Linked DNA regions of Homo sapiens. The protein of the gene in region 1 binds, or shares a complex with, the protein of each later gene. Each region holds a gene or a part of one and is shown on either strand. Other genes may lie near its edges. The genes, in order: DRC12, DRC9, DRC3 and DRC8.

Region 1 (5,244 bases):
CCTGGCCCTATTTATTTTATAGAGACAAGGTCTCACTCTGTTGCCCAGGCAGGTCTCAAACTCCTGGCCTCAAGCAATTCTCCCACCTAAGCCTCCCAAAATATTGGGATTACAGGCATGAGCCACCATGCCAGGCTATCCGAAAAGAACATAGAGGGAGTTTTTACTTCTTAATAATGAGGAGCCTGTGAGACTCTAGGGATAAAAAACAAAAACAACAAAACCCAGAGAGAGAGTAAGAGGCTGGACACCCCACCACCAGATTTCTAGAGGTGGGCAAAGTCCATCACGTTCATGGGGGCTGATTTAGTGGGACCCAGCCAGTCCTGACGGCGGCTCTGGGACTGCTCACAGCTCTACGGAGGGATGAAGCCCGTCGAGCCAAGGCTTCCGAAGACCAGCTGAGGCAGAGGCTGCAAGGGGTGGAGGCTGAGCTGGAAGGGGCCCGAAGTGAAGGGAAGGCCATATATGCAGGTGTGTGGTCGGTTAAGCAGGTGGGCAGGAGACAGGGGCTTGGAGGAGGACAACCAACAGGGTCAGTTGATGCAAGGAAGGGAAACAAGGAGGGCTTCCGACTGCCAGGCCTGGTCTTGGTCTTTCCCAAACAGTACAAATCAGGAAGGATCCTGCAGGAACCAAAGGCAGGTAGGTTCCTGGGATCCCAGGCAGGGGCCTTCCAGGATGCCTGGTGCCATGTGCTTGATGCTGTGTAGGATACACATGCAGTCATAGCCATCATCTCAATCAGCCCATGGGCGGGGAGAAGGGCTAGCATCCCCATCCAAAGCTGGACTGGGGGAGGTAGGTCGGGCTTCCTGTCCCTTCCTCAGGTTTTCATGGTCTGCAGCTTCTCAGAATCACAAAAAGAACCAAGAAGGCCTTTGTGCTCCTGTTCCACTAGACCAAGTAGAGTCTTCCCCACCCACAACTTCATTTCCTTTCTCCATCCCTCCATCTCCAACCTGGGTCCCTGGTGGCCCACTGCCCCCACCCCAGAGATGAGTCGCCAGTGCCATGCCCTGCAGGAGGATATGCAAACCCGCAGCAAGCAGCTGGAGGAAGAAGTCAAAGGCCTTCGGGGGCAGCTAGGTAGGTTTCCCCACCCTCCAAGCCCCTTCTCTCCAAGAGTTGCAGCAAGGGCCAGCATGAAGGGGTAGACTTCAAAGTCTCTGCTCCAGAAAGCTGCCGTCTGGGCTCTTGGATCACTTTCCCCACTTTCGCTGACCCTCCACCACTGAGGACTGCAGCAGAGGGTTCGGGATACCAAAAATCTCTGCTGTAAGTAAAGAAGAGGCTCCAGGCGCGGTGGCTCAGGCCTGTAATCCCAGCACTTTGGGAGGCCAAGGCGGGCGGATCACCTGAGGTCAGGAGTCCAGGAACAGCCTGGCCAAATGGCAAAACCCCGTCTCTACTAAAAATATAAAAATTAGCCGGATGTGGTGGCGCACACCTGTAATCCCAGCTACTCGGGAGGCTGAAGCAGGAGAATCGCTTGAACCCAGGAGGCAGAGGTTGCAGTGAGCCGAGATCACGCCATTGCACTCCAGCCTGGGCAACAGAGCAAGACTCTGTCTCAAAAAAATAAATAAAAATAAAAAAGAAGATGTAGGCCTCACACCCCATTTCCTCCTCTCAAGTCCAGCCCTAACTCCCCACCACTGCCATGTCTCTTGTGAGCAAAACATATTCCCTTTTAGTTTAGCTGATTTCTACAATGAAACTAAGGGGAAATGTTTGACTTATTTACTTCTGTATCTTCAAGACCTAGCATCTGGTAGATCCTAAATAACTGTTCACCAAATAAATGAATAAACACTCCTAATAAGCAAAAATATTTTTAAAAACCAGGAAGCCTTTGCTTCTCTTGTCTCTTGCTTACAAAATAATGTTGAAATATCTCAGCATGACACATGAGCTCTTTCACAATTTTGGTCTCAAAGTTTTCATACCTTAAAAATGCCTTCAACCGGGTGCGGTGGCTCACCCCTGTAATCCCAGCACTTTGGGAGGCCAAGGCAAGAGAATTGCTTGAGGCCAGGAGTTTGAGACCAGCCTGGCCAGTATGGTGAAATGCCATCTCTACTAAAATTACAAAAATTAGCTGAGCATGGTGGCGTGTGCCTGTAATCTCAGCTACTTGGGAGGCTGAGTCAGGAGAATCACTTGAACCCAGGAGGCGGAGGCTGCAGTGAGCCGAGATCGCACCACTGCACTCCAGCCTCGGCAACAGAGTAAGATTCCAACTAAAAAAAAAAAAAAAAAGGCCTTCGGTTTAGCTATAGATGGCCAGGAGCTGCTTATCTGCCATTCAGACTCTGGGTTCCTTTCCTAATCTTTGCTTTACCTCAAATTCCAAGTCAATCAATGACTCAATTGTTTTTGTTTTTGCTGTTGTTGTTTTGGGGATTTTTTTGTTTTTTGTTTTTTGTTTTGAGACGGAGTTTCACTCTGGTCGCTCATTCTGGAGTGCAATGGCAAATCTCGGCTCACTGCAACCTCCACCTCCTACGTTCAAGCAATTCTCCTGCCTCAGTCTCCCGAGTAGCTGGGATTACAGGTGTGCGCCACCATGCCTGGCTAATTTTTGTATTTTTAGTAGAGATGGAGATTCACCTATGTTGGCCGGGCTCGTTTCGGACTCCTGACCTCAGGTAATCCGCCCTCCTCGGCCTCCCAAAGTGCTAGGATTACAGGCGTGAGCCACCGCACCCGGCCAATGAATCAATGTTTACTGAGCACCTCCTGTATACTAGCTAGGTGCTTTGTCATCCATTTATCATGTTTAAAGGTCACAGCATGCCCCTGAGGGATGTGTCATTCTCTCTTTACAGATGAAGACACCAGCCAGCCGCGGTGGCTCACACTTGTAATCCCACCACTTTGGGAGGCCGAGGCGGGCGGATCACAAGGTTAAGAGATAGGGACCATCCTGGCCAACATGGTGAAACCCCATCTCTACTAAAAATTCGAAGATTAGCTGGGCATGGTGGCATGTGCCTGTAATCCCAGCTACTCGGGAGGCTGAGGCAGGAGAATTGCTTGAACCCAGGAGGTGGCAGTTGCAGTGAGCTGAGATCGCGCCACTGCACTCCAGCCTGGCGACAGAGTGAGACTCCATCTAAAAAAAAAAAAAAAGATGAAGACACCAAGGCTCAGAAAGAGACATGCATGTGGTCACCTAGGTAGTAATCCGACTTTGGAGCCTTCTATCTCAAGCCCGCCACTCTCTGCTATATACCTCAGTGGAGCTTCAGCTTTTACAGGGACTGCGGGAAATTTGGTGATGCTGGGGGAGTCTGGAACGAGCCCATTTGAGGTCTCCTTTCCAGATACCTTTGGAGAGACTGGTCAAGGATAGAGTGTCACCATCCTGCTCTCTTTCATCCTGCCTGCCCCCAGAGGCATGCCAAAGGGAGGCTGCAGCTGCCCGGGAAGAGGCTGAACAAGCTCTCGGAGAGCGGGACCAGGCCCTGGCTCAGCTTCGGGCCCACATGGCAGACATGGAGGCGAAGTATGAGGAAATCTTACACGTAAGCACCACCCCCTGGATCCCAGCCATCCCAGTACCCAGGACTCCCCCATGCCCACAAACCCCAGCTCGTATGATGACTGACAACCCAGGGTTAAGGAGAAGGAGCGTCTCCAAGGGAGCCCTGCTCTATCCTGAGGGCAGACAGAGGGGATACGACCATGTCTACTGGGCAAGGAAAGCTTATGAACCAACCTGGGGCAGCACTCACTCCTTCCCTCTCTCTCTTTCTGGGGTCTGAAATATTGATGTCTGCAGGACAGTCTGGACAGGCTCTTGGCCAAGCTGAGAGCCATCAAGCAGCAGTGGGATGGGGCAGCACTGAGACTTCACGCCAGGCACAAGGAGCAGCAACGCCAGTTTGGACTCACCCCCCCTGGATCTTTGAGGCCACCAGCCCCTAGTCTCTAGTGTTCTCTGAGGCCCCAGCAATAAAGTGTCTTGATGTAGAACTCAATAGAGCTGTGGGCTCTGGCCGTTTGGCAGAGAGAAGTGGATCTTATTTTTATTTTTATTTTTATTTAGTTTTCTTCTTTTTTTGTTTTTGTTGTTGTTTATTTTTAGGAGTGGCTGTCATACAGACATCTCAGTTCTGGGTTGACCCATTATCCCTGAGATTCAGTGATTGATAGGAAATAAATTTGACCAGGTCTCAACCTCTCTCCTGCAGGAGCCGCATCCCACCCCTTGAGCCTGAGGCCCTTTTGGTCCCTTCACACCACTGCCCCTTACCCCCACCAACACAAACACAGGCAGTCAGATTTATGGCGAATGGCCATTTCTATAACAAATGCAACGGTGACCAAGCACCACCCTCCCGCAATGCTAAGGCACCCACAGAGGGCAGGCATAGCTGGTCTCCAAATTTTTGCATTACACTCAAGGGTCCTGGAGTCATATCTAGAAAAGGTCCAGATGGCTTCAATCCTAGCCAGACCCACAGCCACACCTTCATCCTTGGGACACAGCTCTCTAAAACTCCCATATGACATCCTCTGGAGCCTCAGACTCCTTCAGGGACCTGTCTGAGGCCTCCAACCACACCCTCTGCTGGCAGGTGGGCCTGCAGGAAGGGAGGGAGCACCTGGGCCAGCCTGTGATCGGTGGTGTCTGAGTCCCTCTGGTCTGGCTTAGAGAGAGCATCCTGCCTTCACCACCTCAGGCTGGAGAGTGAAGACACGGTAGCCCCTGAGTATGTCTGTACCAAGCAGGGGTGCTCTACAGTAGATCCGAGGCCAGAGCCCAGTCCTATACAGAGAGAGGAGGTAGAAGGTCATTCCAGGTGGGACCCAGAAGAGTTCCTTTTTCTTGCCCCGCCCTGCACTGGAATGCCCAGAAATGGGGTTTATTTCACGAGTCCTTCTGTCCCCACCTACCACGACCTGAAGTCCCAACCTGCATACCCCACACGGCTTCACCTTGTACCTCGCCCACTCTGCCCTTCTTTCTCACTCCTCCCTGCCCTCTGTAGCTACTCACAGTCCCATCTGTTTCTTCTTCCTCACCTCTGCAGCCCCAGGGGGAATCCAGGCTTCCAAGCCCCGCAGAGACCTGGCTGCCAGCTTCAGGCAGAGGGGTGGCTCAGCCTCAGGCAGCTGCTGAAGCCTCTCCAGGTCATTCTGTCCCCCAACAGGATACCCGTTCACTTCCAGAATCACGTCTCCCACTTGCAGCCCAGCCCGGGCAGCTGAGCCTCCTGGAGTCACCTGGTGTTG
Region 2 (5,656 bases), on another chromosome or scaffold:
ATCCCTTCGTGATCCATTTATCTACCAACTCACTGATAAATATCCAACACCTGCCAGGTATCTCACACTTGAAACAGGTAACATGATACATAATTCTTAAAGTGCAGGGCTACAGAACCCTAATTCTAATAGCCTACCAGGTATTTTTTTCAGTAAAGACCTGCAAGAGAGCATCTACAAATTCTCCTCTTTAACCACACATTTGGAATCCTTGACTGAAAACTCATTAGCTTTTTCCAAAGGCAAGCTGTATTATAACTAAGCTGGAAAATTTTCTCTTTATTCATCCAATAGGGTTATTTTGAAAGACTCCAGCTGGGGCTGGGCACGGTGGCTCACGCCTGTAATCCCAGCACTTTGGGAGGCCGAGGCAGGTGGATTACCTGAGGTCAGGAGTTCTAGACCAGCCTGGTCAACACAGTGAAACCCCATCTCTACTAAAAATACAAAAATTAGCTGGACGTGCGCCTGTAATCCCAGCTACTCAGGAGGCTGAGGCAGGCGAATCGCTTGAGCCCAGGAGGCCGAGGTTGCAGTGAGCCAAGATCACGCCACTGCACTCCAGCCTGGGCAGTAAAGCAAGACTGCATCTCAAAAACAAAACAAAAAAAAAAAAAAAAAGAAAGAAAGACTCCAGGTAGACTTAGACATAATTCTAACCTTAGATATATTATAGACCCAGCTTGGTTATTAGTATTGAAAATGCTCTTAAAACCACCGTGTCATATATATTTCACACAAGAAGAAATAAATTGAGTAAACATGTGGAAAAATGTTATGTTCACCTGTTAATAAGCAAAAATAAAAAATAAAACAACTCATTAAATTAGCAGACTTTGAAAAATATTGAAAATGGCTACTAATATTGAAGAGACCTTGAAATTACTGCCTGCAACACTGCTAACGGCAGCACAGATTCGAGAGTATTAGCAATGTTTATTAAAAGTCACAAAATACTAGTCTCTGAAACAAAAATCTCATGACTGAGATTGGCTTTTAGTAAATAGTTGCCATGAAGAAAAACAGTTCTTTGGGCAAAGCTTTAATGAGTGCATTATTTATAATAACAAACTTTAGAAACAACCTAAATATAAAAAAAAAGTGTAACAAATAAACTGTGGCACAACCATTCAATGGAACGTTAAACACAATTTTCAATTATTTTATAAAGAAACTGTAATAACATAAAAAATGAAAAGCAATGAGTAATTTTAAAAATCTTCACTCAACTGGGAATGTTATTTTTATAGTGTAAAAGATTAGTAAATTTTTTTTTTTTTGAGACAGATTCTTGCTCTGTTGCCCAGGCTGGAGTGAGTGGCATGATCTCGGCTCACTGTAACCTCTGCCTCCTGGGTTCAAGCGATTCTATTGCCTCAGCCTTCTGAGTAGCTGGGATTACAGGCGCCCGCCACCATGCCTGGCTAATTTTTGTATTTTTAGTAGAGACGGGGTTTCTCCATGTTGGCCAGGCTGGTCTCGAACTCCTGACCTCAGGTGATCCGCTGGCCTCTGCCTCCCAAAGTGCTGGGATTACAGGCGTGAGCCACCATGTCCGGCCTTTATTTATTTTTCTTTTTTATTTATTGGCCACTATACTATTGGGAAAAATTTTTAAATATAGTCATAATTTAAAAATAATTAATTTAAAAATTATGTCTTTTTTTGGTTTTTGTTTTTGAGACGGGGTCTCGCTCTGTTGCCTAGGCTGGAGTACGGTGGCGTGATCTCAGCTCACTGCATCCTCTGCCTCCCAGGTTCAAGCAATTCTCCCACCTCAGCCTCCTGAATAGCTGGGATTACAGGCGCACCACCATGCCCGGCTAATTTTTGTATTTTTTAATAGAAACAGGGTTTCACCATATTGGTCAGGCTGGTCCCAAACTCCTGAACTCAGGTGATCCACCCTCCCCGGCCTCCCAAAGTGCTGGGATGACAGGCGTGAGCCACTGTGCCCAGCCCATAAATTTGTAGGTCATAATTTGACTTAATAAATTTTAAGTCATAAATTAAGTCATAATTTGAAAATTATGAGTATACAGCAATATAGAAATCGAAAAATTTCTTATGTAAGCTCAATGATAAAAGCAGAAAACAAAATTTTACCTGCACTCTCTCAAATTACAGCTATATAAGATATCTATTCAGATGCATAACCCTGAAAGAAAACATGAGCTAAAGTTCATTAGGCTGAAAGAATGATGGTTGGTTTTCCTTCAAAATATTCTTTTTGTTTCCTCAGTATAAGCAGAGTACAAAAAAAAAGTCAAAGCATAGAAAAGCTGTGGGGACCCACCTGCTGCTCCTTTCTAAGGAACATTTCAATCTCTGTATGAGTCCGGGCCTCTTCTTCGGTTTTCATCCTGAGTTTCTGTAAGAACAATCAGATACCAGTACGTCTTCCCCGCAGGGCTGGGAATCAGAAGTTCTCAAGATGAGAGCAGCAGCTCGGTCGGTAGCTGAGGCTCCCTTTACCAGCTGGGATCCCGGGCTTTCAGTTCCCTGCAACTCCTGTTCACCAACACTGCAGAGCCACGTGGCGCGGCACTGTGTGGACTGCGTGTGTCCCTAACGAGACGAGCACAATCCCGTGAGCTGAACAGAGGTGCCCACTGAAGGACAGAAACGGCGCTCCAAGGGCACAAGGCTGTGGGGCTTAAAAAGGGGGATTCCGGAGTGCCAGGAAGAGTGTTGACGTGGCCTTGAGCCACGTCAGTCTCAGAGCGAGGAGTCCTCCCACACACAGATTCCACGGCCCAAGGACGTTTGTTCCTGCTTCCCTCTTCCCATCTGCCTGCTGCTCTTTCTTGTTTTCTTTTCTTTTTTGTGAGAAGGGAGTCTCCCTAGTTGAAGTCTGAAGTTGCCCAGGCTGGCTTCAAACTCAAGGATCCTCCTGCCTCACTGCCTCACCTCCGATTAGCTGGGACTAGTGCCTGGCTTTGCGTGTGTGCGTGCGTGCGTGCGTGCGTGTGTGCGTGCGTGCGTGTGTGCCATTTAGCATTCCCCTCAAAGAAGATCTACCACTTCTTTCTTCCTCCTGGCATTTTTCACCGTGACTTCTCATCCTATAAACTCAGGTTTGAACGAAGTTCAGCGCTCTCGATGCTGTATTTCTTACTGGAGGAGTGAAAGGTACTGGTTAGATGAAAGAAACAGCAGCAAAATCCTGCCATAACTAAGCACCTCGTTTTGCCCTCTCCCTATAATTAGTCAGAAAAATGGTGATTGGTTTGCCAAAATAAGAAGTGACCAAGGAGAGAAAGTGCAGCCAATTTTCAAAGTCATTATGAGGCGGGAGATGGAGGCTACAGCCCACTGGAATCTCTGCTTGCGAACACGCATATCCTCATTTAGGCTTTTATTTTCAACCTCAAGTGGAGGGGCTGTTGCCGATAGAGATGGAGGGAAATCTTTGTCTCCCTCCTTTGTTAGCTGAGAGGGGATCAGGAGTGACAGCTCAATTGCCATCTCCTGGGTTCTTGGCTAATGTCCCAGGGATTACCTCAATCTCTTCCACCAAGAGTTCCTCTGTTCTGTTACACTTTTTCTGGGTCTGGGCAATCTGCAGCTCGGTATTGGTTTTCATGTAGCGATTCTCCAAGTTGGATTTTGCCTTCATCTCTTGCAGTTGGTCCTTGAGGTTAGCAATATACTCATTCTGACTCTGTAGTGGAAAGACCAGGTTTCTAAATTGAAAATACATTCTACCTCCATTCAGTTCAGTCAGCGGCTTACGGTTCCCTTTTATGCGTATAAATCAATAAGGAACTGGAACTATTTTTCCGCTGTCACACAATGGGAAATTTAGCCAACAATCATGAAGTGTATAGATGAAAGTGAGTAACACAGCATTTCTAAGAATCAGGGCGCATCAGGGCTGTGAGATTAGTTCCCAGGCACATTATTGCTGTACTCCGTATGTCCCACACAGCTTTCTCATTTTGGTAGGAAGAACACTGGTCAAAATGATCAAAAGAACTGACTTCCCACCCAGGCCTCCAGCTGTGTGAACTTGGCCAAGTCAAATCTCCAACTTTTTACTTTCTATAAAACAAACACACAAACATACAAACACCCAACCTGCCTGAAGTATCTCAGAGAGTGATTATTAGGTTTCCTTGAGAACACGTGTGAAAACGCTTTCTTTTTGCAGGTCACCAAGTGCTTGGCAATTGTGAGGACTCAATAGTCATTAAGAAAAATATTTATTCAGCACCAGGCACTGAGCTAGGAAAATTGTGGAGATCTAAACAGACATATTCCCTTCCCTCATAGAGCTTACAGTCTAATAGAAGAGAGGTGGTTAAAAAGAGACAAACACATGTGTAAACTTCCAAAAATTGTGCAAAATGATAGAAAAGGAAGGCTCGAGAGGCTGTGGGAGGAAATAACAAGGGAGGAGTACATTAGACTCTGGAAGGTCTGAGAAGGACTCTCTCGGGAAAGCGATGGCTCATTCGATACCTGAAGGACAGGTAAGCCCACCACATGAAAAATAGGCTTGGCCAGGCACGGGGGCTCACGCCTGTAATCCCAGCACTTTGGGAGGCTGAGGCATGGCGACCAGCTGAGGTCAGCAGTTTGAGACCAGCCTGGCCAACATGGTGAAACCCCGTCTCTACTAAAAATACGAAAAATAGCTGGGAGTGGTGGCGGGCGCCTGTAATCCCAGCTACTCGGGAGGCTGAGGCAGAAGAATCACTTGAACCCGGGAGGTGGAGGTTGAAGTGAGCTGAGATCATGCCACTGCAGTCCAGCCTGGGTGATAGAGCGAGATTCTGTCTCAAAAAAAAAAAAAAAAAAGAAAAGAAAAAGAAAAAAAGGAAAGAAAAAGAAAAGAAAAATAGGGTTAAGGGAACTCTAAAAAAAAAAAAAAGAATAAGTATATGCCCAAATCCTGAAGCAATCAAGACCTGGATACATTCCAGGAACTGAAAGAAAGCTCCGGAGGCTCTAGCCTAGTGAGGGTTGAGGGGAGGACAGGATGAGGTTGGAGGTCGGTAAGGGCACCACACAGGACCCCGGAGACCCAACTGAGAAATTCAGATTTTATTCCAACTGTCATGGGAATCCTTGGAAAGCTTTTAGTCAGGGAGGTAACATTTGTTTGAAAAGAACTGTTTGGGCGGAATCAGTGTGTGAGTAAGTCCACAGGGAGGGGACCTGACGGCACAGCAAACAAGCACACGACTAGCAACAAAAGTGCTTCAACCCGAGACCTGCTCCTCTAGATACCAACCGCCTTTCTTCTCTTTTTACATTTTTTTTGAGATGGAGGCTCGCTCTTGTTGCCCAGGCTGGAGTGTAGTGGCATGATCTTGGCTTACTGCAAGCTCCACCTCCCAGGTTCAAGTGATCCTCCTGCCTCAGCCTTCTGAGTAGCTGGGATTACAGGTGCTCACCACCACACCCAGCTAATTTTGTATTTTTAGTAGAGATGGGGTTTCTCTACATTGGTCAGGATGGTCTTGATCTCCCGACCTCAGGTGATCCACCTGCCTCGGTCTCCCAAAGTGCTGGGATTACAGGCGTGAGCCACCACGCCTGGCCTCCAATTGCCTTTCGTCTTAACCATGTAAGTAGGGTAGAATTAGTTCTTTTGTATTAAAAAAATTTTTTTGTTTAGAGACAGGATCTCCCTCTGTCACTCAGGCTG
Region 3 (5,656 bases), on another chromosome or scaffold:
TGCTGGTCCTGTGTGTCTGCAAGACTTAGCCCCATATCTGGCAGAGTGGAGGCTTGGTGAGCATACGCTCTCACACTCATTCTGCAGATGATGCCTGGCATCTGTGCTGCATGTTGTACACTGTTGCTGGTACTGAGGGGGTACATGGTGGTGAAAAGGCCATCCCCGTCCTCCCTCCTGAGCTTACATGTAGTGTGAATAGTCACATCAGCAGCAAATACACATCAGCCAGGTAGTTTGAAACTATGATGAGGCTCTGACCTGACCTGATAAATGGGGCATGTGATACAGAGACAGTGGTTTTTCTGGAAGTTGATGAAGAAAGGCCTCTCCCAAGAGCTGATAGTCAAGCTGAAATCTGAATGACAAGGACAAGCCAGGCACATGGGGACCTAGGAAGAGCGTGTCTGCCAGGTGGAATATCAACTGAAAGGAGCAAGCCTGGGTGACTGGGGAAGAGCTCAGAGGCTGCCGCTGAGCATCAGGAGTGAGGGTTCTGGGGGTGGGAATCGCCCAGATGGGCAGGGTCAGCCCGAGGGTCTGGGGGACTATGGGGAGGAGCTGACGCTAGGGGTCATGAAAGCCACTAGAAGGTGTTGTGTAAAAGTGTGCAGTGATAGGGTTTGGGTTTTCAAGGGTCCCTCTGGCTGCCACATGGAGGACGGACTGTAAGAGGACAGTAAAGAGGCAAGCAGTCCAGGCCAAGGACGATGGTGGCTTGCCTTGGTGGTGATGTCGCGACAGAGAGAAGCTGAGAAACTGGCAGTGGAGTGAATGATGCATGCACTAAAGCAGGCCCTGACAACATAGTATCTCTGTCTGGGCCCTGACAACATAGTATCTCTGTCTGGGCCCTTGATGCCCACACTCCTTCCAGAGACATAGACATGCTGCCGCGGGACCCAGCGCAGACATCCGGGAGAGCCTTCTTAGCGTGCAGACCCCAGGGATGGAGCCAGGTTCCTCAGGCCGACCCTGCTGATTTTGTGACCATTCATCAGTGGATGTGCTGGTGCAAACCGGATGGCATTGTGCAGGATCAGAAATGGTGGTTCCAACACCCCCACAGTACTCATTATACAGACTCTAAGGTTAAGAAGACCTCCAGGGGAAATCTCAGACTTCAACCTCTACCTGTAACTGCTTCTCTTAGAAAGTGCCAGAAGCCTCCACATAATTGAACTTTTGGAAACGACCCTGTTGGAAAGTTGAAACCATCTAATTATCATGAGCTCCTCTTTAACTGGGCCCCACTGGGTGCCCCACCAGGTGCTTTGTTAGCCTATTTTATCTGCCAGCAACCCTGTAAAGCAGGTTAGTGTGCCCTTTTGCAGATGAGAACACTGAGGCTCTGGGAGGTTGTCAGGCTTACTCACAGAGCCTCAGTCCAGCCACAGAGCTGGGCTGGACCACATCTGTCAGGCTCCGAGCAGCCCGCCCCGCCTACCGCGCGCAGGTCGTTAGGCAGGTCCTCGTCCAGGTCGCCCTCGACAATCTTCTCCAGGGTGCTGATAGAGATCTCCAGGAGCTTCTCGTGGTGGTGATTCTCCAGGTCCCGGCACTGAGCCATCGTGCAGCCCCGAGTTAAGCAAAGGCCCGGGAGGAGCAGGCCCGGCGCGTCCCTGATGCTCTCAGACGGCGGGAGACAGACTTTAAGGGCCCAAGGCGAGCTCGGAAATTCTGGCTGGCAGCACCGTCCACTCACAAGCTCCGAACCCTGGGCCTTCCTCGACTCCCTGCCCCTGCCCCACACCTCGGACGGACCCTCGGCCCCTGCCATCACACTCTTCTCTCCCTCCTGCATGGAGGCTCCTGGCCTCTGGGTTAACTGCTTCTCACCCTGTGCATTTGGCACCACTTGTTGCCTCTACAACTTGTCTCCCTGAGGGACTGTGAGCCCCAGGAGGGCAGGACCACAGGGCTGCTGCTAGCTGGAGCACAGCAGTTTGCCCCATGTGGAGTGCCCTGAGTTCGGGTGGAAGAAGGGTTGGCCATGCTCCGATGTTGGCTCCTCACCCTAACATTTCACCTGATGTACTCCTTATAGTGTCTTCCACGTGGGGGTTGCCTCAACCCCAGAGTGTGCTTGCCTGCAACACAGGGGGCGTCATTTCCTAGTGAACATCACTCATATGAGAACAATCATGCTGGGAGCCTACTGCAAACAGTTTGGATGTTGTCCCTCTGGGCATCCAAACCACAGCTCTAACCAGGCCATCATTGTTCTGAGGGTCGGGAAACCTCCTCAGACCCTGTGGAACATTCTTTTGTCCAGAGGCCGGGACAAGCCCAGGGGCTCTGTAGCACCTCCCCATGGGGAAGGTCATCACAGAAAGGATATAGGCTTTGGACATTTTCGATAAACAGTCCTACCATGTCAACAATGTTCCTTTCAAACATGTTTATAGTCTCCTGGAAATGTTAAAGAACACAGTTAACATGCATATTTAGATGTCCAGCACAGAGCAAAAGGTACTCCTCAAAATTTAGCAACCAGCTCCTCTAATCACAGACCTTCAGCATAAAGACCACCCATCTTGACCCTCCTGAGCAGATGGTTGTGAACTGACCCCTCTGCTCTCTCTAAAGTTGTTGTTCTCCAACCATATTAACTCCCTCACCATCTGAATGTTTAATGCTGTCACCGGAACTTTGCCAGGAACACTTGTCCTGGTCTTACTCCCCTTACCTGCCTGCCCAACACACACACACACAGCCAACCCCCTCTCCTTTGGGTTTCCCAGTGACATCTGTGCATCACCTCCAGGGAAACAGTGGAGTGAGCTGTTAAGAGCTAGACTGCCTGGGTCAGTATTCCCAGCTCCAGCACTCTGTGTAACTCTGGGAAAGGCATTTCACCTCCTTGGGCCTTATCTTCCTCATCTGGGAAATAGGTTACCTGCATAATCCCTGCGTTGTGGCGTTGTGGTGAGGTTAAATGAGTCACTTCACACAAAATGCTTTGCAAGGTGCCTGACAGAGAGGAGGCCCTCAGTAGGAGCGGGCTGGCACTCCAGATCTCTTTCAGTTAGTTGCTGTTTTGTGGTGCTTAGCAAGGCACCTAAGGCCCAAATGGGAGTTAGTGTTGATTGAAGGAACAATGGAAGATGTGATCTCCAGGCCTGCCACTCTCGGAGTGCCCCACTCCCATCTGCTATAGACTCCAGGGGCTGCAAGGTGGGCAGGGGTGGAATCTATAGGAATGTGAGTACTGTCTGCAGAGTGAGCACCTCACATAATTTTCAAACACATGTATGTGCTGTTCTCGTGAATAAAAATAGGGTCATTGAAAAGCATGATTGCGCTTGTGGCTTTCTGGCCACCAGTAATACAAGTAGGATGGCACATGGGTTCTGGGAAATGTTTGGATGTTGAAAGGCAATCTCCGTGCCTGAAAAGGCTGGGAGCTGCTGCCTCACTCGCCCCTGGCACTGTGCGCTGCTTCTGCAGTGCCTGTGCTCTCCAGCAGGGAGGGAGCACCTGCCCTGTGATGTGATGGGGAAATCTATCCCATGTCTGAGGTGTCACTTGACGTGTGAGGAATTGATTAGGTGCTATCACTTGGCCCAGCCACAGCAGCATCCGATGAGGTTCAATTCATCACACCACTTCAGACTCCCAGCCTCCGCTGCCTTGTAACACATACTCTGGCTGCTAATGAATTTCAGACAGCGGCGCTTTTCATTTTCACTACTTAGTGCTGAGTTGCAGCCTCCTCACGTCACCTGAGAAGCGGCAACTGCAGGCTGCAATGCGGAGGGGTCTTTGTTTGGTCCCCAAGTGGGGGTGCGCTTTGCCTTTAGAGTACCCGGATAGCTCCAGGGGTCTAATCAAAAACCTCTCCCCACTGACTTCCAGGATAGGGGGACCATTTCAGAAGAATGAGCTCACCTCTCATTTTCCACAAGAATCACTTCCAATGTAAATGATTAAAATGTAATAAAAGCAAACAGGACTGATGAGCAAGAAAGCTACAGCCTGCCACGCTGAGTCGTGCTGGACGTTTCCAGCAGAGGCGTGCCCATGAAGGCTACAGTTCACCTATGGATGTGCAGCTGCATCGCCAGATTCTGGCACTTGTGCCCAGGGCCCAGCCTTACCTCCAGCTGCTCCACCAGCTGCATCTCCAGCGTCATGAGCGCATCGAACAACTCACTGATGTCAGCACTGCATTCTAGGATCATCTTCTCAATGTTGGGCAGTTCCAACTCCTCTCGAATGGCACTTAAACTCTAGAAACAATAGACTGCACTTTAGGAATCAACAACTAAGTGTAATTAGATAATGGCAGGTGGCAATTTGGTTTTGTGGGTAAGAATTTGGACTCGAGTCAGCCTGCCCAAGTGCAAGTCTCAGCTTTGCCATTTGCTGGCTCTGAAAGCGTGTAGAAGCTACCTACCCTCTCCATGCCTCAGTTTCCTGGTCTGTAAAGTGCGATTGATAGCCCCTACCCTTGACACAAGTGAGAGAACACATGTGAGGCTCTTTGAGCACTAGCAAGTGCTCACTCCCTGTAAGCTCAGGTTTTTATTAGAGGCTGGTAGGCAGGGTAGAAGGAGCCATGGCTTTCATGGGGTTCAGAGCATTTCACACCAAAATATGCCGCTTTGGCATAGTGATTATTTTGAGTTAAAGATACTTAAAGGCCGGGAGCAGTGGCTTATGCCTGTAATCCCAGCACTTTGGGAGGCCGAGGTGGGTGGATCATGAGGTCAGGAGATTGAGACCATCCTGGCTATCACAGTGAAACCCCATCTATACTAAAAATACAAAAAAAAAAAAAAATTAGCCAGGCATGGTGGCGGGTGCCTGTAGTCCCAGCTACTTGGGAGGCTGAGGCAGGAGAATGGCGTGAACCTGGGAGGTGGGGCTTGCAGTGAGCCGAGATTGTGCCACTGCACTCCAGCCTGGGCGACAGAGTGAGACTCTGTCTCAAAAAAAAAAAAAAAAAAAAAAAGATACTTAAAAACAGAAAATGCAAAGAGGACACCCTGACCTCCCTTTTTCTTCCTGAAAGCAGAAGTTAAATCTCCCATGGGAAAGGTGCCCTCCCTGTACCAGGAGGAAAGAAACCATTCTTTTTTTTTTTTTTTTTTTTTTTTTTTTTTTTAAAGACGTAGTCTCACTCTGTCACCCAGGCTGGAGTGCAGTGGTACGATCTCGGTCACTGCAACCTCTGCCTCCTGAGTTCAAGCAATTCTCTGCCTCAGTCTCCTGAGTAGCTAGGATTACAGGCACCTGCCATTATGACCGGCTAATTTTTTTTGTATTTTTAGTAGAGACGGGGTTTCACCATCTTGGCCAGGCTGGTCTTGAACTCCTGACCTCATGATCCACCCACCTCGGCCTCCCAGAGTGCTGAGATTACAGGTGTGAGCCACTGTGCCCAGCCAAGAAGCCATTCTTATCATCAGAGGGAGGGAGTCCGGGCCAAGGGGAATCTGTGTGAACAAACCTTGTTAAACTAACGCTCATCTGCCTTGTCACTTCTCCACGATGAACTGCCTTAGCCCAAACCTCTTTGTCTTGTCACGTTCTCACAATTCACTACTCTCTGTCCAACTAAGTATATAAGCTTTCGGCCCTAACGGCTTCTTGAGCCTTCATTTTGCTTGTGAATGCTCCCATGTACATGTACAAATTACTCAATAAAATT
Region 4 (5,656 bases), on another chromosome or scaffold:
CCTGGGCTCAAGCGATTCCCCCGACCTCAGCCTCCCAAGTAGCTGGGACTACAGGCGCAAGCCACCATGCCCGACTAATTTTTTTAATTTGTAGAGACAGGGTTTCACTGTGTTGGCTACGCTGGTCTCAAACTCTTTATTTTTTTTATTTTTATTTTTTTTTTGAGATGGAGTCTCGCTCTGTCGCCCAGGCTGGAGTGCAGTGGCACGATCTTGGCTCACTGCAAGCTCTGCCTCCCAGGTTCACACCATTCTCCTGCCTCAGCCTCCCGAGTAGCTGGGACTACAGGTGCCTGCCACCACGCCCGGCTAATTTTTTGTATTTTTAGTAGTGATGGGGTTTCACCGTATTAGCCAGGATGGTCTCGATCTCCTGACCTTGTGATCCGCCCACCTCGGCCTCCCAAAGTGCTGGGATTACAGGCGTGAGCCACCACGCCTGGCTCGAACTCTTGAGCTCAAGTGATCTGCCTGCCTTGGCCTCCCAAAGTGCTGAGATTACAGGCATGAGCCACCCTGCCTGGCCTCATAGTAACTGTCGATAGTATAGAGTGTAGCCTGTGGGACAGTACAAAGGTTGAGCTTTGAAGTAAGACTTGAATTTGAATTCCGTCTTCCCCAAGCTCTAATTATCTGATCTTAGCCGAGATGCTAAACATAAGTAGCTTCAAGTTCCTCAGATGTAAAGTGGGGATAATTATACCCCCAATATTTCATAATGTTGTAATGGGGACAATGTTTTCTTATTCATTTTTACATCCCCAGCACCTGCCACAGTGCCTGGCATCAAAGGAATGCTGAGGCCGGCTCACGCCTGTAATCCTAGCACTTTGAGAGGCCCAGGCAGGTGGATCACTTGAGGTCAGGAGTTCAAAACCAGCCTGGCCAACATGGTGAAACCCTGTCTCTACTAAAAATACAAAAAATTAGCTGAGTGTGGTGGCGCGTGCCTGTAATCCCAACTACTCAGGAGGCTGAGGCAGGAGAATCGCTTGAACCCAGGAGGTGGAGGTTGCAGTGAGCTGAGATCACACTACTGCACTCCAGCCTGAGTAACAGGGTGAGACTCTGTCTCAAAATAAATAAATAAATAAATAAAAAATACAATAAAGGAATGCTGAATAAATGGGAAAGAAAGTGTTTGGTACGTATCTAGTGAATTAGTAAGTATTAGTATCTGCTTAACATAAAACATAAGAGTTGGCCAGGCGTGGTGGCTCCTGCTTGTAATTCCAGCACTTTGGGAGGCCGAGGTGGGGAGATCACCTGAGGTCAGGAGTTCGAGACCAGCCTGACCAACATGGTGAAACGCTCTCTCTACGAAAAATACAAAAATTAGTTGGGTGTGGTGGTGGTTGCCTGTTATCCCAGCTACTCTAGAGGTTGAGGCAGGAGAATTGCTTGAACCTGGGGGATGGAGGTTGCAGTGAGCCTAGATCGCAGCATTGCACTCCAGCCCAGGCAACAGAGCAAGACTCCATCTCAAAACAAAAAAACAAATAAAACATAAGAGTTAAGAAAACTTTTAAGTCTTACCAATTGGGATCATGCATAATGCATTCCTGCATATTTCTGGGGTAATTTAATAAGTTTTCTTCCTGTTTTAGACCAATATAAATATCCGGTTAAGACTAAGCAAACAAGAAGACTAGCTTTTTGAAGCCTAATTTGTTTCCTCTTATTCAGAATAAAAAAAAATTTGAAGAAAAACTGGACTGAAATTTGTTTTTGCTCTGATATATAAAATTTACAGAAATGTCTCAAGAATAGTCATAATTTTAAAGATCAAATGGACAGTGAGATACTACCTCACGCCTGTTAGGAAGGCTATTATCACCAGAAGTCCCCCAAATAATAAGTATTGGTGAGGATGTGGAGAAACTGGAACCCTCGTGGACTGTTGGTGGCAATGAGAAATGGTGCAGCTACTATGGAAAGTGGTATGGCGGTTCCTCAGAAAGTTAAAAGTTGAGTTACCATGTGACCCAGCAGTTCCACGTGTGGGTATATATCCACAGTAATTGAAAGCAAGGCCTCGAAGAGATATTTGCACAACCATGTTCATAGCACATTGTTCACAGTAGGTAAAAGGTGGAAGCAAGCCAAGTGTCCATCAGCGGATGAATGAACAAACCAAATGTGGTATATACGTGTAGTGAAATATTATTCAGCCTTCAAAGGAGGAAATTCTGACACATGCTACCGCTTGAATGAACCTGAAAGACATCATGCTAAGTGAAATAAGCCAGTCAAAAAGACAAATACTCTGTGATTCCACTTACATGAGGTACCTAGAGAAGTCAAATTCATGGAGACAGAAAGTAGATTGCTGGTTGCCAGGGGCTGTGGGGAGAGGAGAATGGGAAGTTGTTTAAGGAGTGTAGAGTTCCAGTTCTGCAAGATGAAGGAAGTTCTGGAGATTGGTTGCCCAGCAGTGTGAAGGTACTTAACACTATTGAACTATATGGTTAAAAGTGGTTAATACAGTAAGTTTTACATTATGTGTATTTTACCACATTTTAGTAAATAGAAAATGTTGAGTACATTCAGAATGAAAGAAATGGTACATTGTTTTTCAAAGGCAATTTGGAAATTTGTATTGAAGAATAAATGATGATGGCTAGGCAAGGTGGCTCACATCTGTAAACTCAGCACTTTGGGAGGCTGAGGTAGGAGGATTACTTGAGACCAGGAGTTCGAGACCAGCCTGGGCAACATGCTGAGACCTCATCTTTGCTAAAAATAAAATAAATAATAATAAAGAAGTCGGGGGTTCCCTCTGTTGGCTTTGGAGCCCCCATCCCTCTGTCTCTGTACAGGGAAGCTTCTTCCTTCTCCTTTCTTGCTCCTTCTTGCCTGTTAAACTCTCTATTTCTTAAAACCAAAAAAATAAAAAATAATAATAAAAAGTGATGTCCACATGCTTTGAGCTTTAATATACTTCTGGATATTTATCCTTAGAAATATATTCTGAAAAGAATAAAAAATGCTCTAAGCACAAAAATGATCAACATAAAGTTATCTATAAATTTGAAAATATAGATAACATTTGCATGTCCAACTAATGGGGCATACAAAATAAATGGTTGTATGTCCACTTGTTGGGTTGCAGCCAAATATATAAAAATTATATGTGTAAATGGGTAAGGACACGTGGGGGAGCCCAGGAGATGATGATGATAGCAGGGTGATTAGACTTTTAGGGGCACTTATTTTTAAAATCTCATTTTAATGTCAGTTCTACAAAACTTTAAAAACCCACTTAAATATGCTAATTAAAAATTATTCTTACCCACTTGTGAAAGTGTGTTTACCAGATCCTGTACTTGACAATCCTTTGTAAACCTCTAGTATGGATTTTATAGATATTAAGACTGTAAAAAAGTAATTTTAGTTTTTATTTTTATTTTTTAAGAGATGAGATCTAGGCCGGGCGCAGTGGCTCACGCCTGTAATCTCAGCACTTTGGGAGGCTGAGGCTGGCGGATCGCCTGAGGTTGGAAATTCAAGACCAGCCTGGCCAACACGGGAAAACCCCGTCTCTATTAAAAATACAAAATTAGCTGGGCATGGTGGCGCATGCCTGTTATCCCAGCTACTCGGGAGGCTGAGGTAGGAGAATCACTTGAACCCGGGAGGCGGAGGTTGTGATGAGCTGAGAGCACCATTTTACTCCAGCCTAGGCAACAAGAGCGGAACTCCGTCTCAAAAAAAAAAAAAAAAGAGACGAGGTCTCACTCTGTCACCCTGGCTGGGGTGCAGTGGCTTGATCACAGCTCACTGTAGCCTCTACTTTCTGGGCTCAAGTGATCTTCCCACTTTGGCCTCCCAAGTAGCTGGGACTGCAGGGGCGTGCCACTGTGCCCAACTAACATTTTTATTTTTGGTAGAGATAAGATCTTGCTCTGTTGCCCAGGCTAGTCTCAAACTCCTGGCCTCAGGCAATCCTACCACCTTGGCCTCCCAAAGTGCTGGGATTACAGGCTTGAGCCACCACCTCTGGCCCATAATTTTATTTTTTTAAATGCACTAGTAAAATTGGGAGTTTAAAAACCTGGACTAGAATTTGGACATTGCCTTTTTTTTTATTCTTTTTAAGATTTTGCTTGTTAGTGTCAATTTATCTGACCTTTGGTTTGAAGAATTTCCATCTAAAGAGGAAGATAGGCAGCTAAGGAGACAATGATACAATAATGTGATAAGTGCTATGATAGTTGCACATGTATGATGATTGGGTGCCTGGGGAGAGTCACCTGATTCACACACACCCTCTTTAAATTATAGCCCCTTTTTATTCCCTCTCATAGCTATTTGTTTTTTTCCTCTTTCATACTATATTTTGTAATTGCCTGTAGATGTGTTGTTTGATGTCTGCTTCTCCTAGACTCTTAACTTCCAAAAGGATAGGGGTCATGCTCATGCATATACCCAGAGCATGGCATATAGCTCAGTATTTGCTGAATGTTGAATCAAAGTTGGCTTTCTGAAGGAGATAACCGAAGCTTATCTTTTTTTTTTTTTTTTTTTTTTTTTTTTTTGAGACGTAGTCTTGCTCTTGTCGCCCAGGTTGGAATGCAGTGGCGTGATCTCGGCTCACTGCAACCTCTGCCTCCTGGGTTCAAGCGATTCTTATGTCTCAGCCTCCCAAGTAGCTGGGATTACAGACATGTGCCACCATGCTGGGCTCATTTTTTTATATTTTTAGTAGACGGGGTTTCACCATACTGGCCAGTCTGGTCTCGAACTCCTGACCTCAAATGATCCGCCTGCCTTGGCCTCCCAAAGTACTAGGATTACAGGTGTGAGCCACTGCGCCTGGCCTAATTTTTGTATTTTTAGTAGAGACGGGGTTTCACCATGTTGGCCAGGCTGGTCTGGAACTCCTGACCTCATGTGATCCGCCCACCTTGGCCTCCCAAAGTGTTGGTATTACAGGTGTGAGCCACGACTCCCAGCCCCAGGCTTATCTTGAAGGTGTAATAGCACAGAGAACAAGTAGGGGATGGATATTTCAGGAAGAGAAGAAATAACATACTTGAAATTGTGAAGACTCAATATGGCCGAAATTTAGGATGGGTTAGGAGATGTGGGAATTTTTATTCTTAAAGCATTGGTGAGTGATTAAAAGTTTTTAACAAGGCCGGGTGCAGTGGCTCACGCCTGTAATCCCAGCACTTTGGGAGGCCGAGGCAGGTGGATCACGAGGTCAGGAGATCAAGACCATTCTGGCTAACACGGTGAAACCCCGTCTCTACTAAAAAAAAAAAAAAAAAAAAAAAAAAAAATTAGCTGGGCGTGGTGGCAGGTGCCTGTAGTCCCAGGTACTTGGGAGGCTGAGGCAGGACAATGGCGTGGACCCAGGAGGTGGAGGTTGCAGTGAGCCGAGATCACGCCACTGCACTCCAGCAAGGGCAACACAGCGAGACTCCGTCTCAAAAAAAAAAAAAAAAAAGTTTTTAACAAGATGGGAGGCTGAGGCAGGATAATCACTTGAACCCGGGAGGTGGAGGTTGCAGTGAGCCAGGATTGCACCACTGAACTCCAGCGTGGCTGACAGAATGAGACTCTGTCTAAAAAATAAAAATGAAAAAATAAAAAATAAAGTTTTTTTTAGCAAGAGACAATCATATTTGTTGTCTAGAAAAATCACTTGGGC

Evidence for each region.
Region 2: DRC12 (region 1) and DRC9 share a complex: the UniProt entries of both Homo sapiens proteins name them as parts of the nexin-dynein regulatory complex.
Region 3: DRC12 (region 1) and DRC3 share a complex: the UniProt entries of both Homo sapiens proteins name them as parts of the nexin-dynein regulatory complex.
Region 4: DRC12 (region 1) and DRC8 share a complex: the UniProt entries of both Homo sapiens proteins name them as parts of the nexin-dynein regulatory complex.

Annotation. Positions count from the first base shown.
Region 1 is NC_000011.10:119,188,996-119,194,239, reverse strand, and holds the end of DRC12 (dynein regulatory complex protein 12), read left to right. Parts: intron 1-354; coding exon 355-474; intron 475-996; coding exon 997-1,089; intron 1,090-3,399; coding exon 3,400-3,530; intron 3,531-3,598; exon of another isoform or gene 3,599-3,673; intron 3,674-3,787; coding exon 3,788-3,940; 3' UTR 3,941-3,986; downstream 3,987-5,244. Other genes in the region: NHERF4 (Na(+)/H(+) exchange regulatory cofactor NHE-RF4), read right to left, coding at 4,748-4,777, 5,035-5,235. UniProt on the Homo sapiens protein: Component of the nexin-dynein regulatory complex (N-DRC), a key regulator of ciliary/flagellar motility which maintains the alignment and integrity of the distal axoneme and regulates microtubule sliding in motile axonemes.
Region 2 is NC_000003.12:197,910,379-197,916,034, forward strand, and holds part of DRC9 (dynein regulatory complex protein 9), read right to left. Parts: intron 3,665-5,656; coding exon 3,503-3,664; coding exon of another isoform or gene 3,458-3,502; exon of another isoform or gene 3,344-3,457; intron 3,118-3,343; exon of another isoform or gene 3,022-3,117; intron 2,372-3,021; coding exon 2,297-2,371; intron 1-2,296. UniProt on the Homo sapiens protein: Component of the nexin-dynein regulatory complex (N-DRC), a key regulator of ciliary/flagellar motility which maintains the alignment and integrity of the distal axoneme and regulates microtubule sliding in motile axonemes.
Region 3 is NC_000017.11:18,002,939-18,008,594, reverse strand, and holds part of DRC3 (dynein regulatory complex subunit 3), read right to left. Parts: intron 4,233-5,656; coding exon 4,101-4,232; exon of another isoform or gene 4,091-4,100; intron 2,413-4,090; coding exon 2,342-2,412; intron 1,572-2,341; coding exon 1,448-1,571; intron 1,198-1,447; coding exon of another isoform or gene 1,150-1,197; exon of another isoform or gene 661-1,149; intron 1-660. UniProt on the Homo sapiens protein: Component of the nexin-dynein regulatory complex (N-DRC) a key regulator of ciliary/flagellar motility which maintains the alignment and integrity of the distal axoneme and regulates microtubule sliding in motile axonemes.
Region 4 is NC_000001.11:244,974,785-244,980,440, forward strand, and holds part of DRC8 (dynein regulatory complex protein 8), read left to right. Parts: intron 1-5,656. UniProt on the Homo sapiens protein: Component of the nexin-dynein regulatory complex (N-DRC), a key regulator of ciliary/flagellar motility which maintains the alignment and integrity of the distal axoneme and regulates microtubule sliding in motile axonemes.